Regions from separate parts of the Homo sapiens genome. Here region 2 is linked to region 1. A link means that fine-mapping ties the variant in region 1 to the expression of a gene that starts in the linked region. Tissue or cell type: whole blood. Region 1 holds a variant in brackets; the other region holds the start of a gene. All regions are shown on one strand. Distances are from middle to middle.

Region 1 (4,387 bases):
CTGACCAAGATGGTGAAACCCCGTCTCTACTAAAAAAATACAAAAATTAGCCAGGCGTGGTGGTACACACCTGTAATCCCAGCTACTCAGGAGGCTGAGGCAGGAGCATCGCTGGAACCCAGGAGGCAGAGGTTGCAGTGAGCCAAGATCACACCACTGCACTTCAGCCTGGGCGACAGAGCGAGACTCCGTCTCAAAAAAAAAAGTCTAACAAAATATTAGCAAACTGAATCCAATAATGTTTAAAAATGATTTTTTTAAAGGAGTTTTTACAGATGCCCAGTGACACACACCTTGTGGGGCTCCATGAGGACAAGAATCCCTCAGGCACAGGATGGGAATGCTGCCCTGGGGAGCGACATGGCAGGGACCTCGGAGAGCAGATGAGGCAGGAGGAACACTCCAGAAGCCACTCATGGCAAGGCAGTGTGACTCCAGGGCTGCCCCACCACAGACCCCATTCTCCAAAGGCAAAGGCTCAGATCACGTTATAGGTATTGACAGAAATAATGGACATGTAAATGACATTGTAATGACATCAGACATGTAATGACACCAGAACTAAGGAAAAGAAAGAAGGCTCAACAGCGAGGCTGGGAGTGTCTGGGAAGGACAGTGGTGCTGCAGAGGGCTGTGTGCTTGCTTTGAGGCTTCACAGACTACCCCCAACCACAGTTCACTACCTACACGTACACAAATTCTCTAGACCTCACATTCTTGTCAAATGGTGTGATTTTTTTTTTTTTTTTTTTTGGAGACGGAGTCTGGCTCTGTCGCCCAGGTTGGAGTGCAGTGGTGCCATCTCGGCTCACTGCAAGCTCTGCCTCCCGGGTTCACGCCATTCTCCTGCCTCAGCCTCCCGAGTAGCTGGGACTACAGGCGCCCACCACCTCGCCCGGCTAATTTTTTGTATTTTTAGTAGAGACAGGGTTTCACCGTGTTAGCCAGGATGGTCTCGATCTCCTGACCTTGTGATCCACCTGCCTCCACCTCCCAAAGTGCTGGGATTCCAGGCGTGAGCCACGGTCCCCGGCCCACATGATGTACTTTAGAAAAAAGGAAAATGTTGGGATTAGTTCCTGCTGTCTCTAACATTCGAAATCTGAAATCAACATTCCCGACCCTCTAAAGAGCTGAGTCCTCACTTTTTCTCCTTGCATCCTCCAAATACTCAACCCATGACACACAAGAGTTTGCCGCATTATCTTCACTCCACTCATCCATGTCTGATATACCTGGCGTGGAAGCTTATTTAGTGATCTCAGGTAGTCTTTGTCCAGAATACAGTTTCCAAGTGCATTCCCAAAACTCCTAAGGGCAAGAGAAAAAAAGGTGAAACAGGGTTAAGAATTGTTACACATGAATATCAGAGAATAGAATTACAACTTTTGTACAGGTTGCTTCTCAGGAGCAGCAGAGGAAGTGGACCCTAACATGCATTCCCCATTGATGTCTGGTAAGCATCTAGCATGTTCCTGCACTGTGTTAGTTTCTGAGAATACTGCAGTGAGGACAAGACACAAGTCCCTGCCCTCACAGAGAAGATGAGTATGAAAAGATTACGGCGCCATTCACAAAACCCACCAGCCACCTCCTGACATGGAGAACAAACTGCAGAGAGTTTTTCTTTTTTTTCCCCCCAAAGGCTGCTCCAATTTCCCAGCAGGAGTAGGCAACACACACTTGGGGACCGGGGGCTCAAGGGCACAACCTCCCATGACCAGAGTTCTTAACTTGGGATCTACGGACTCCCCCACAGAACTCATAGGTTTTTCTGGTTCAATTCACTTCAATTCTCAAAGACACGGATATGGTTTGGATGTTTATCCCCTCCAAATTTCATGTTGAAACGTGACCTCCAATGCCGGGGGGTGCGGCCTGGTGGGAGGTACTGGATCCTGGGGCTGGATTCCTCATAAACAGCTTAGTGCCATCCCCTTGGTGTTGAGTGAGTTCTCACTCAGCTCATGAGAGATCTGGTGGTTTTGAGTGTGGGGGCTGGGCATGATGGCTCATGCCTGTGATCCCGGCACTTTGGGAGGCACAAGGCAGGAGGATGACTTGAGCCCAGGAGTTTGAGACCAGCCTAGGCAACAAAGGGAGACCCTGTCTCTCCAAAAAAAAAAAAATTTTTTTTTAATTAACTGGGGGTGGTGTTATGTGCCTGTGATCCCAGCTACTCGGGAGGCTGAGGCGGGAAGATCACTTCAGCCCAGGAGTTCAAGGCTGCACTGAGCGATGACGGCACCACTGCACCCCAGCCTGTGCAACAGAGCAAGACCCTGTCTCAAAAAATGAAAAACAACAATAAAATAAATAAATAAGCCTGGGACTCCTTCCTTCTCTCTCTTGCTCCCTCTCTCTCCACGTTCCCTCTTCACCTTCTGCCATGATTAGAAGCTTCCTGAGGCCTCAGCAGAAGTGGATGCTGGCACCAGGCTTCCAGTACAGTCCACAGAATCATAAGCCAATCAAACCTCCTTTATTTATAAATTACCCAGCCTCTGGTATTCCTGTATAGCAACATAAATGGACTAACACGGACATCTGCGTGACTGTGTAACTACGTTAACTATGCTACCTGTGCGTAGCGGAGGACTGCTGAGGAGCACGGAGAGGAGGGTGCTGTCTGTGCACTCGCAGTAGGAGTGGGAAGGCCTC[C/T]GGCACACATGACTGAGTGCACGGAGAAGAGAGAGTACAGGATTCTACCACTTACTCCCAGCAAGGGAAGCCTGAAACAGAAACATTGAAAAAATACTAACGAAAGTGGGAAAACGGCAGACAGGAACCAGGGCAGGGGTGAGAATTACCTTCCACGCTGCTTGGATTTTTGAACCATGTGGATGTGTTACCTCTTCCAAAAAAAATCGAAATCTGCTCTGAAGCAAGAGCTGAAATGACGCAGGTTAGACTCCCAGCCCCGCGCTCACCTGAGGGCTCGCTTCAGCCCGTCTGTCACCGCCTCCTTCCTTGCCTTCTCCAAAGATAAAGCCTTGGACTTGAGGCCCTCACTAACACCATAACCAACATCTTCATGATATGAACCATCCTGGGGGCAGAAAAGGAGTTTGAACTCAAACACGAGAGCGGCAGGCGTGCCACAACTCCCCTGTTCCTCAAGCAGCAGGGTTCAAAGCCGGACTCTCCCACCTGGCGGCCTTGCTACAGGGGCACGGGCAGAAGGCTGGGTGAGAATCCATCGCGAGTGCTGCTTCCTAGACCTGGGCTGCCTGGACATGTGCCTGCGGTCAAGGTGTCAAGACGATCCTCCCTTCCCAACTTCCCAACACACAAAGGGCACATTAGAAACTCACCCCAAATCCTATCAGTGTGCATCACCCTAAGGTAAAAAAAACCTCTGGGATGGCCGGGCCGGGCGTGGTGGCTCACGCTGTAATCCCAGCCCTTTGGGAGGTCAAGGGAGGTGGATCACTTGAGGTCAGGAGTTCAAGACCAGCCTGGTCAACATGGTGAAACCCTATCTCTACTAAAAATACAAAAATTAGCCGGGTGTGGTGGTGGGCACCTGTAATCCCAGCTACTCAGGAGACTGAGGCAGGAGAATCACTTGAACCTGGGAGGCAGAGGTTGCAGTGAGCCGAGATTGCACCACTGCACTCCAGCCTGGGTGATAGAGTGAGACTACGTCTTGGAAAAAAAAAAACCTCTGGGATATGAAACAAAGGGATGATTTGAACACTGGATCTAATGGTCTGTAAGGACGGGAGAGCAAACCCTTTGTAAATCAGGTGGCGTCCAGCTCCTGCCTCTCACCAAAAGAGAAGGTGGACCTGAGCACATCATTCGCTGATTGAGAATTAAATACAATGTTTGATGACAGCGCTCTGTGATTTTTAAAAAATAACTCAGAAAGCACTCAAATAAATGAGTGACACTATAACACAATTCTTTCCATTCTCAGCTACTCACTCATAGATACAAGATTTTTTAGTACTATTTAGAAAAATAAGTCAGAATAGAATTAATGCTGAATTGTTCATTCAAGAAATAAGTAGGCCGGGTGCGGTGGCTCACGCCTGTAATCCCAGCACTTTTGGAGGCCAAGGCGGGTGGATCACCTGAGGTTGTGAGTTCCAGACCAGCCTGACCAACATGGAGAAACCGCGTCTCTACTGAAAACACACACAAAAAATTAGGCGGGCGGGGTGGCGCATGCCTGTAATCCCAGCTACTTGGGAGGCTGAGGCAGGAGAATCGCTTGAACCCAGGAGGTGGAGGTTGCGGTGAGCTGAGATTGAACCATTGCCCTCCAGCCTGGGCAACAAGAGCAAAACTCCATCTCAAAAAAAAAAAAGAAGTAAGTAATATTCAGTTATGGATATATGGATATATAAACTAACTGAAAAGAAAAAACAGCACCATCCAT
Region 2 (4,387 bases), 24 kb after region 1:
ACTCCACCCTGGGCAACAAGAGTGAAACTTCATCTCAAAAAAAAAAAAAAAACAAAAAAAAAACTGCCCTAAACGATACCAGACCTGAGGCCACTGAATTACCTGACCCAACCCAAGAGTTAAATGCTAGTTTCCAAAAACTTAAGTTTTAAATGTCTGTGCCTCAGACTGCGAGTTCTGTGGAGGACTAGACCTAGAAAGCCTAGAAAATCACCAGTATCCATCAAAAATGGAGAAACAAAATGTGGTATATCCACACAATAAATAATTCAGTTATTTAAAAAATGAAGTTGATACATGCTACATACAACATAGATGGACTTTGAATCATGAAGTGAAATAAACCAAACACAAAAGAACAAATATTGTATAATACAGTACTGAGAATGGGTAAATTCATAGATTAGTGCTGCTGGGAGTAGGAGGAAATAATGGGTGTCTGCTAATGGTTTTAAGGTTTCTTTTAGGGATGATAAAAATGTTCTGGAATTAGATAATAGTGGTGATTGCACAACCTTGTGAATATATTAAAACCACTGAATTGCACACTTTAAAAGGGTGAATTTAGACTGGGTGTGGTGGCTCACACCTGTAATCCCTGAACTTTGGAAGGGCGAGGAGTTCGAGACCAGCCTAACCAACATGGTGAAAAATACAAAGTAGCTGGGTGTGGTGGTATGCGCCTGTAATTCCAGCTACTTGAGAGGCTGAAGCAAAGAATCGCTTGAACCCAGGAGGCGGACGTTGCAGTGAGCCGAGACGGCGCCACTGTACTCCAGCCTGGGCAACAGAGCGAGACTATGTCTCCACTTTTTTTTAAAAAAGGGAGTGAATTTAATTGTACGTGAATTATAACTTTTTTTTTTTTGGATGGATTCTCGCTCTGTCCCCCAGGCTGGAGTGCAGTGGTGCGATGTCGGCTTACCGGCACACCTGCCTACTGGGTTCAAGCGATTCTCATGCCTCCGCCTCCCGAGTAGCGGGGATTACAGGCGCCCGCCACCAGGCCTGCCTAGTTTTGTATTTTTAGTAGAGACGGGGTTTCGCTATGTTAGCCAGGCTGGCGTAGAACTCCTGGCCTCAAGCGATCCTCCCGCATCGGCCTTCCAAAGTTCTGGGATTACAGGTGTGAGACGCCGCGCCAGACCTCTATCTCAATGTTATAACAAGGCTCAATACTCAGCTAAAGTGAGCGTCAAATTTTTATTTTTATTTTTTCCCCCGTGACAGGGTCTCGCTCTGTCGCCCGGGACGGAGTGTCGTGGTACGGGTGCGATCTCGGCTCACTGCAGGCTTGACCTCCAGGGAACATGGGGGCATGCCGCCACCATGCCCGGCGTCAAATTCCTTTTAAATCAATCATTTCTTCCCAGCGTCCCCCGCTCCCTGCAACTCAACTTCGTTTAGCTATTAACACAAACTTCAGATTCCCCACGCCTGTCTGCAGGCAGCATCTCCAAGGAAGCGCCACCACGGACACCTGGCTGTCCGCACCGCGGTGGGGTCCCGGCGCGTTGGTGCCAAGTTTCCTGTACCCCGCCTTCCTACCCACCTCTCGGGAGGCCCGGATACTGAGCCCCTCACTGCACTGGTGAACTAGAACAGGCCTCTGGACTCAGCATCTCTACGCTGAGACCTCAGGATCAGGTCCACCGCAGCCCCAGGTTCTCGACCCGGAAGCTGAGCCTTCCCACGCTCCACACCCACGGCTAGAACCACCCCGGGGGAAGCCGCTCTCCTCCCCCACTTACGCGCCTCGGGCAGCGCGCGGTGCACACAGGGAGCTCGATCTAGGCTATGGACAAGGGGAAGAGATCTTAGATGGAGGCCGCGCAGAGGAGAATGGGAAGGGTGCGCGAGCGTCTCTGGGAAGAAGGTCCGAACCCACGCCCAGCGCCGGAGGGGGAAAAAAAAAAACACAGACCAGAGAAGGAACCGTAAATCAAGTCGGAGGGGAAAAGAGCCGCAAAGCCTTCTGCGGCAGCCGTAAAGCAACCTGGAGGCGCGGTGCTGGCTTTTACGTTCTGAGCCGCTCGCCCTGCCGCTTCCCTGCGCGCCCTCTGCCTCCTACTTCCCGCCAGCTTCCCTCGGTCCGCGGCCGTCGGATCTCTGCTGCCCCCTGGTGGGCCTGGCGGTTTCGTCAGGCCTTCAGCGGCTAGTTAGGCCCGGGTGGTTCACACTTCACATGCCCAGTGCCCATTAGGATGCGGGGCCCGCCCACCCATGCACAATTGGGAAAATCTGAGGATGAATGGTTGTCAGAGACCTTCCCAGATTCCGCCCGGGCCGAGGCAGCGGTGGACCTGGTGGTTCTCGCGGCCTCTCACCACCGCCGCGCACATCCAGTCGTCACCGGATGGCGCCTTCGGTTAGCGACGACCGCAGGGAAATGGAGAAGTGCGGCTTGGGGGGCGAAGTCCCCTCTAGAATGTCCCCTGGGGCCGGGCGTGGTGGCTCAGGCCTGTAATCCCACCACTTTGGGACGCCGAGGCGGGCTGATCACGAGGTCAGGAGTTCGAGACCAGCCTGGGCAACATGGCGAAACCCTGTCTCTACTAAAAATACAAAAAATTAGCCGGGCGTGGTGGCGGGCGCCTGTAGTCCCAGCTACTCGGGAGGCTGAGGTAGGAGAATGGCGTGAACCCCGGGGGACGGAGCCTGCAGTGAGCCGAGATCGCCCCACTGCACTCCAGCCTGGGCGACAGAGCGAGGCTCCGTCTCAAAAAAAAAAAAAAAAGTTTTTGTAGCGACAGGGTCTTGCTATGTTGCCCAGGCTGGTCTTGAACTCCTCGCCTCAAGTGATCCTCTTGCCTCAGCCTCCCAAAGTGCTAGGATTACAGGTATGAGCCACTGCACCTAGCCCACTTATCATTCTTTTTGTGGCGAGATATTTTCAACTTACTCTCTTAGAAATTTTGAAATATACAATAAATTATTATTAACTATAGTCACTATGCTGTGCAATAAATCTCAAAATTGTATTCCTCCTGTTTAACTGTTAACTTTGTACCCTGAGACCAACATCTTCATCTCCCCATTATCTCCCCCAGCCCCTTATTCCCCAGCCTCTGGGGAATTTTTAGTAGAGACAGGGTTTCTCCATGTTGGTCAGGCTGGTCTCGAACTCCCAACCTCAGGTGATCTGCTCACCTCAGCCTCCCAAAGTGCTGGGATTACAGGTGTGAGCCACTGTGCCCAGCCAATATTGAGCATTTTTATGAACCTGTTGATCATTTGTATGTCATCTTTTGATAAATGATTTTTTTTTTAAAGAGTCAGGGTCTCAAGCTATCAAGCTGTTGCCCAGACTGTACTGCAGTGCTGCAATCATGGCTCACTGCAACCTCTAACTCCTGGGCTCAAGTGATCCTCCCACCTCAGCTTCCCAGGTAGCTGGGACTACAAGCATATGTCACCACACCTGGCTAATCTAAAATTTTTTTGTAGAGACAAGGTCTTTCTATGTTGTCCAGGCTTTTCACAACTCCTGGCCTCAAGCAATTCTCCTGTCTCAGCCTTCCAAAGCACTGGGATTACAGGTGTAAACCAGTGCACCTGGTGCCCTTTGCCCCCTTTTTAGTCGTGTGATCTGATTTTGCTATGAGTTGTTTGCTTTCTTCACATATTTAGAATAGGATAGTAACCCCTTATTGGATATATGGTTTGCAAATATTTTCTCTCACTCTGTTGTTTTCTTTGTTGTGTCCTTTCATTTCTGATTTTGGTAATTTGTGTCCTCTCCTTTTTTCACTAGTCCAGCTAGATGTTTATTAATTTTACCTGTCTTTTCAAAGAACCAGCTCATGGTTTTATTAATTACTACAATTGTTTTTCCATTTGTTTGTTTCACTGATTTTCATTGTTATCTTCATCACTTCCTTTCTTCTGCTCACTTTAGGTTTACTTTACTTTTCTTTCTTTTTGTTTCTTATGATTTTAACCTTTTTTTGTTTTAAGTAAAGGCATTTAAACTATTAAACTATAAATTTTCCTCTAAGAACTCCTTTAGCTGAATTTTATAAATTCTGAAACATAATTTTTGGGGTAAATGTATTTTAAAGTTACCTACCTGCATGTTATTGTATATATTATATTGTTTTCTTTTTTTTTATGAAAAACTTTTTTTTCTAAGAGACAGCACCTCACTCTGCTGCCCAGGCTATGGTGCAGTGGCACGGTCATAGCTCGCTATAACCTCAAATGCCTGGGCTCAAGTGATCCTCCTGCTTCAGTCTCCTAAGTAGCTAGGATTACAGAGGCTACATGCCCAGCTAAGTAAAAAAACATTTTTTTGGTGGAGGCAGGGTCTTGCTATGTTGCTCAGGCTGGTCTTGAACTCCTAGCCTCAAGCAATTCTCCCACCTTGGCCTCCCAAAGTGCTGGAACT

What was found.
Region 2: it holds the start of RAD52, and the variant in region 1 is fine-mapped to the expression of RAD52 in whole blood (INTERVAL, PIP above 0.99).

The regions. Positions count from the first base shown.
Region 1 is chr12:924,215-928,601 of GRCh38, forward strand. It overlaps RAD52 (RAD52 DNA repair protein), which reads right to left. Exons shown (of 12, transcript NM_134424.4): 6 at 2,931-3,049; 7 at 1,236-1,311. Among named protein-coding and RNA genes, the nearest start is that of RAD52, 23 kb to the right of the region's middle. The variant C/T (reference allele first, on the strand shown) is at 2,662.
Region 2 is chr12:947,851-952,237 of GRCh38, forward strand. It overlaps RAD52 (RAD52 DNA repair protein), which reads right to left and starts at 1,844. Exons shown (of 12, transcript NM_134424.4): 1 at 1,752-1,844. RefSeq lists enhancers at 1,016-1,674, 1,167-1,246, 1,675-2,333, 1,797-2,066.